Linked DNA regions of Homo sapiens. The protein of the gene in region 1 interacts with the protein of each later gene in a pairwise test. Each region holds a gene or a part of one and is shown on either strand. Other genes may lie near its edges.

What was found.
Region 2: the proteins of CPT1A (region 1) and CYBA interact in a two-hybrid assay, tested with the Homo sapiens proteins (one large-scale study listed by BioGRID and IntAct).

What each region holds. Positions count from the first base shown.
Region 1 is NC_000011.10:68,775,889-68,779,702, reverse strand, and holds part of CPT1A (carnitine O-palmitoyltransferase 1, liver isoform), read left to right. Parts: intron 1-3,814. UniProt on the Homo sapiens protein: Catalyzes the transfer of the acyl group of long-chain fatty acid-CoA conjugates onto carnitine, an essential step for the mitochondrial uptake of long-chain fatty acids and their subsequent beta-oxidation in the mitochondrion.
Region 2 is NC_000016.10:88,645,108-88,648,053, reverse strand, and holds part of CYBA (cytochrome b-245 light chain), read left to right. Parts: coding exon 1-9; intron 10-878; coding exon 879-953; intron 954-1,215; coding exon 1,216-1,299; intron 1,300-1,856; coding exon 1,857-1,938; intron 1,939-2,624; coding exon of another isoform or gene 2,625-2,888; exon of another isoform or gene 2,889-2,946. UniProt on the Homo sapiens protein: Subunit of NADPH oxidase complexes that is required for the NADPH oxidase activity that generates, in various cell types, superoxide from molecular oxygen utilizing NADPH as an electron donor.

The DNA.
Region 1 (3,814 bases):
CACCCCAGCCTCCCAAGTAGCTGGGACTACAGGTGTGTGCCACCATGCCCAGCTAATTTTTGTATTTTTTGTAGAAACAAGGTTTCCCCATGTTGCCCAGGCTGGTCTTGAACTCCTGGGCACAGGGGATCTGCCTGCCTGGGCCTCCCAAAGTGCTGGGATTACAGATGGGAGCCACCACACTCAGCCTTTTTTTTTTTTTTTTTTTTTTAATAATTCGTTACTCTGAACTGTTTGACCTGTTCCGTGTTTGGCATGAGAAATTAAATGAAAGTTTTGTTTCCTTAACTCACCGGTCAGGTTCTTGTTTAAAGTTGCTAAATTCTAGGATCATCATCCGTAGACTTGACACAGAAAATACTGTGGTCACTTGTTGTGATGAGACTTGAGATCTTTTTCTTTTAAAGCAACAAGCCCCTTTGAGATTCACATTGACTATAAAGACCATCTTTTTGCAGTGTTTTAAATTTTCCTGCTGGCCTAATAAATGAAGTGGAATAAAATGACCTGAAAGTCACGGCGTGTGTGGGAGACAGGGCCCAGCTGCAGGCTGAGCACCTCGCTGTTCTTGATAGGGCATGGAGCCGGGTTTGTGTGTCTGAAATTAGAAATTAGTAGTGGCCAGGCGCGGTGGCTCACGCCTGTAATCCCAGCCCTTTGGGAGGCCGAGGCAGGCGGATCACGAGGTCAGGAGAACGAGACCATCCTGGCTAACACGGTGAAACCCCGTCTCTACTAAAAATACAAAAATTAGCCGGGCGTGGTGGCTGGCACCTGTAGTCCCAGCTACTCAGGAGGCTGAGGCAGGAGAATGGCGTGAACCCGGGAGGCAGAGCTTGCAGTGAGCCGAGATCACGCCACTGCACTCCAGCCTGGACGAAAGAGTGAGACTCCATCTCAAAAAAAAAAGAAAGAAATTAGTAGTAAACTTGTGAAGACATCATAATGTATGACCTTCTTTTTTCTTTAAACTTCTGTGAATGTTTTGAATTTTGACTTTTTTTTTTGAGATGGCGTCTTGTTCTGTCACCCAGGCTGGTGTGCAGTGGTGCGATTTCAGCTCACTGCCACCTCTGCCTCCCCGGTTCAAGTGATTCTCCTGCCTCAGCCTCCCGAGTAGCTGGGATTATAGGCACATGCCACCATGCCCGGATAATTTTTATATATATATAAACCTGACCTCAAGTGATCCACCCGCCTTGGCCTCTCAAAGTGCTGGGATTATGGCATGAGCCACCACGCCTGGCCTTGACGTTTCTTTTTATAATATTGTGTCTGTCTATTTTTCCCCCAAGAGATAAACAAATTCTGGTGCCAGTTTTTTCTTGCAAAGTCTTCGCACTCACTCTCCTCTCTGCCTGGAAGGCTTTTCCCCCTGGCTTCCCCTGGCTCCTGGCCCCGTCAGGTCTTCCTTAGGTCTCAGCTGACCTCACTTCCCCTAGGAATGGCACTGCCCTGCTACCCTCTCCCAAGACTAGGTTAGGGGCTCCTGTCTCATCTTCCTCTACCTCTTTTAATTGTCTTACTTCTGGTTGGAGTCTTGGCAAAACCTCCAGCCACTCCTTCAGCCAAGGGAGGTTTTCTATGTAGGAAAAAGGATAAAAAGGAAAAAAAAAAACATAGTGCTCTAGGCTTTAAGACACCAGTATGACCCTAGGACATTAATACCTGATAAAAAGCAGCCAATATTAAAAGGGCTTTTCACCACCACCAGGGTTCTTTGGCGATGTCGACAAAAGCTGAGAGAGCCTTTTAGCTACAGAGCGCATTGAAGATCAAGCTGCCTTCAGTGTCTCTGGACGTAGCAAGAAGGCACGCTTTAATAAATCTCTGCACAGCATAATAGCCCGGGCTTGTTATACCCCAGGCCAAGGACTTCCCGAGTCCTATATGCCTAAGAGCTGTTGTTTGGCAAAAGAAAAAGAGTCGGGACCATAGGCAGCTGGATCACACAGGGTACATTTATCAAGTAGAGAAATCTACTGGATATTTACAAGATCAGGCTTGTTTTTTAAAGTTCTCTGGATAAGGATAAAGGGATTTTATCTTAGACCAGGGTGGGCACGTAGAAGTAGTGGTGTTTAGTTGTTAGCGTCCAGCAGACAGGATGGCCTGACTCCAGGGACCCCTGGCTGGGGGCTTATGTGATCCATACACAGATGGGGACTGACCTAGTCTCACATGGGGGCCCAGTGCAGTCCCTTAAAGACAGATCTAGTCAAACTTGAGTCTGTTTGTTCTTGTTCTTGTTCTATTTTTATTTTTTATTTTTTGAGACAGGGTCTTGCTCTGCCACCCAGGCTGGAGGGCAGTGGTGCAATCTCAGCTCACTGCAACCTCCAACTCCTGGGTTCAAGTAATTTTCCCACCTCAGCCTCCCGAGTAGCTGGGACCACAGGTGTGCGCCACCACGCCCAGCTGATTTTTGTATTTTTTGTAGAGACGGGGTTTTGCCACATTGCCCAGGCTGGTCTCGAACTCCTGGCTTCAAACAATCTGCCTGCCTCAGCCTCCCAACATGCTGGGATTACTAACATGAGCCACCACACCCGGTCTTGCTCTTGATTTATTTCTGATGTTTCTGTGTCAGGCTCTTCTGGAGCTCTGACCCAGAGCAGGTGGAACCTGATCAAGTCTGTTCGTTCGCTGGCTCAGGTCAGCCTGGATTGTGACCCCCACGTATTAGCGGCACCTTCCACCCGCCCCGCCGCCTCGCCAGCCGACAGTCACCCCGACCTTGTGTTGTTGTTTTTACCTCCCTCACTAGAATGTAAGCTTCCTGAGCACAGGGATTCCTCTTTTAAAAAAACTTAATTTTTTTAGTTGAGATATAAGTCACATACCTTAAAATCCACCCTTTAAAAGTGTACAATTCAGTGGTTTTTAGTATATTCACGAGGTGCTTGTGCAACAGTCACTGCTTAGCCTCCCGAGTAGCTGGGATTACAGGCGTGCATCGCCACACCCACCTAATTTTTGTATTTTTGGTAGAGGCGGGGTTTCCCCTTGTTGGCCAGCTTGGTCTCGAACTCCTGACCTAAAGTGATCTACCCGCCTTGGCCTCCCAAAGTGCTAGGATTACAGTCGTGAGTCACAGAGCCCAGCCTAATTCTGTACTATTTTTATCACCTCCAAAAGAAATCCCTCATTCCTTTCTCCCCCAGGTTCCTGATGACCACTAATCTTTCTGTGTGTATGTATGTGCCTATTTTGGACATCTTATATAGATAGAATCATACAATATGTGGTCTTCTATGTCTGGCTTCTTTTTTCTTTTCTTTCGCTTTCTTTTCTTTCTTTTCTAGAGACAGGGTCTTGCTCTGTCGCTCAGGCTGGAGTGCAGTGGCACAGTCATGACTCATTGAAACCATGACCTCCTGGGCTCAGGTGATCTTCCCACCTCAGCCTCCTCAGTAACTGGGACTACAGCCATGTGCCACCACACCTGGCTAATTTTTAAAATTTCTTGTAGAGATAAGATCTCACTATGTTGCCCAGCTGGTTTGGAACTCCTGGCCTCCAGCAATCCTCCCACCTTGGCCTCCCAAAGTGCTGGGATTACTGAAGTGAGGCACCGCGCCTGCCTGCTTCTTTTCACTCAGCATAATGTTTTCAAGGTTCAGTACGTTGTAACACATACCTGGAATTCATTCCTTTCTAGGGCTGGATAATATCTCATTGTATGGATTGACCACACTTTGTTTATCTCTTCATCAGTTGATGGGCATTTGTGTTGTTTCCACTCTTTGGCTATTATGAATAATGCTGCTCTGAACATTCTGTACAAGTTTTTGTGTGAGCATCTATTCATTTC
Region 2 (2,946 bases), on another chromosome or scaffold:
CTACTCCATGTATCCTTCCACCTGAGGCTGGGGTGGGCGGGGAACGCCCAGGGCAGAGCTGGGGAGCCACTTCACAGTGAGCTGTTTGCCTCCGCTCCCCACCACCGCAGCCAGGCTGGGACACAGGGTGGGCTGTGCACGGGTTGGGCAGCCCAGGCCCCAGCAGCCAGGCCCCTCGCCAGGACCATGTGGCGATCAGCGGCAGACCCGCCAGTCTAAGTCCTGGTGAGTGGTGGGCAGGGGGTGTCACCAGAGGGCCAGGGCCAGCACTGAGGCCTCCCTGTTGGACTGCTGGGATCCCCTCTGCCCGCTCCTGTCAGTCATCCCCCTTGACCGGCCCCTCTACCTCCTCTGCCCCATCTCAGCCCTGCCGCCCAGCCGGACCTTGCGACAAGGAGCACTGGGCAGGGTGGTGGGAGGGAGGGCGTGGGCAGCCCCGAGTGCCAGACCTGTTGGAACCTCCCGTGGCTGCCTCCTGGCTCTGTGACCTCAGGCAGTGGCTGCCCCCGACCTTTTTTGAGACAGGGTCTCGCTCTGTCCCCCAGGCTGCAGTGCAGTGGTGCAGCTGTGACTCATGGCAGCCTCCACCTGGGCTCAGGCCACCCTCTTACCTCAGCCTCTGGAGTAGCTGGGACCACAGGCACACACCACTGCACCTGGCTTTTAAATTTTTTGTAGAGATGAGGGTCTCACTATGTTGCCCAGGCTGGTCTCAAACTCCTGGGCTCCAGTGATCCTCCCGCCTCAGCCTCCCAAAATGCTGGGATTCCAGGCATGAGCCACCGTGCTCGGGCCCCTCTCTGTGTTGTCTTCAGTAAAGGGAGTTCCCTGTGGCCCCTCAGGCTGAGCTGGGCTGTTCCTTAACCACATGGCTTCAGTGTGGCGGGCGTGTTTGTGTGCCTGCTGGAGTACCCCCGGGGGAAGAGGAAGAAGGGCTCCACCATGGAGCGCTGGTGAGTCTCCTCCTGCTCTGGGGTCTCTCCGGGGGCTGCGGGGCCCAGGCAGGGCTCACAGGGTTGGGTGGAGCTTGGTTTCTCACTTGGAGGCTCCGGAACCAACCCTTTGGTGCTTGTGGGTAAACCAAGGCCGGTGCCTGCCCGGTGTGTTTTGTGGGAGGAAAGAGGCCTGGGTGCCCTGGGGTGGTCAGCAGGGCAGCAAAGGAGTCCCGAGTGGGAGAGGCCCAGCCGCGCCGTCTCGCCTTCCTCCCTCCCCCAGGGGACAGAAGTACATGACCGCCGTGGTGAAGCTGTTCGGGCCCTTTACCAGGAATTACTATGTTCGGGCCGTCCTGCATCTCCTGTGAGTCCCCGTCCCGCACCCCCTCTAGGGCTCAGGAGGGCTTGGAGCCGACCCTCCCCACTGTCCCACCGGCCGGGCTGCCTGGACAGGAGCCACCCCCACTTACCTCAGTGTTTTTCCAAACAAAAATTCGGGTCCCTGGCTCTGGCAGGGCCTGTGTCTGCTGTCTAGTGTGCAGGATTTGTAAGGATCCACTCCAAATCCGAGGAGCTCCGATCCGTCGCCAGGGTCTGGGGTCAGCATGCACTGCTGGGGGGTCTTGCCTGGGCTTCCTGGTAGGGTGGAGGGTTCCGTGCTGTGTGTCTGCTGGTTACTGCCGGCTGAGGCCAGGACACCCACACGTGGCTGCTTCCTCCGAGCAAGTGCACCAGAGCCGCTAGTGTCCACATCAAGGCTGAGAACACCCAGGACCGAAACAAGCCCCGGTCCGCGCACGTCCCCTGGGTCTGCAGTCTGCCTTGTCCTGAGACTTTGTGGCCTTGGCCCCCAGACCTGGGGCTCCGTTCCCCTTTCTGAGTGCCCTTCTGTGTCCCTGCCTCTCACCCGCTGTCCCCCAGGCTCTCGGTGCCCGCCGGCTTCCTGCTGGCCACCATCCTTGGGACCGCCTGCCTGGCCATTGCGAGCGGCATCTACCTACTGGTGAGTGGCGCCCTCTGAGGTCGGCCCCGGCCACCCCCATCCCCAGCCCCTGCCCTGACACCCTCGGACACGCATGGCCCTTGAAGCCGGCTCTGTAGGCTGAGCCAAGGCTGGGAGCAAGTGTGAGCCTGGGCGTGTGCTCACAGCACGGCGGGGACGCAGCGGTTGCTGCTGCCATTTTTGGCGTGTCTAGTGTGTCGGGTCATTTCCTTGCATTTCCTCATTAACCCGCACCACAGCCCTGGGAGGGGTACTGGGGTCCCCACTTTACAGACAAAGATGCGGAGGCTCAGGGAGGTGCTGTGACTGGCCTGGGGTCACGCAGCCGGCCGAAGACCGTGCCTGCGCTTGGGTCCCATTATCAGGCTTTTCTCACCTAAACCCTATTCGCGCTGATTCATGGGCGGTGCCAGGACGCAGACATTTTCTTAAACTGCCGACACCTGCGTTTGGTTTATGACTGCTGCACCCTGTTAGAAGGCTGCCCATCCCATGGGATACAGTGATCTCTCTGAGAGGCCAGGGATGGGTGGGAGGACAGGGCGCAGCCTGGCCAGGCCTTGGGTGAAATGCCCTCTGCCTGCCCTGGGCTCCGGAACAGACGGCTGCAGGCCACCTCTCACTGCGGGGGTCTCTGGGTGGACAGAGCCCTCAGACTTTGCTTATTTAAATCCTTTTGTCCATAGAGCCAAGTCCCTCCTGCCCGCAGAGGCAACTGCCCTCCCCTTGCTGTGCGTCTTCTAGTGTGTGTGCGTGGGAAAGGTGCAGCACTTTCTGTGTACGCCTTCCGCGTATGGAAGTGGAGTTCTGTTTCAAGCCTCACTGACCTGCCACCGGCAGAACTCTCCTTTAGAACCCCTTCCTGTTGCCAAGTGCTCATCTGGGCTGTTGCTTTGTTTTCCGGGGGCCACCCGCATCCCCCCCGTCTCCCTGCTGCCACGCACAGCTAGTGGCTCCTGGAGACCTCGGGAGGAATTCCTTGTGCTAAACCCAGAGAGGAATTGCTGG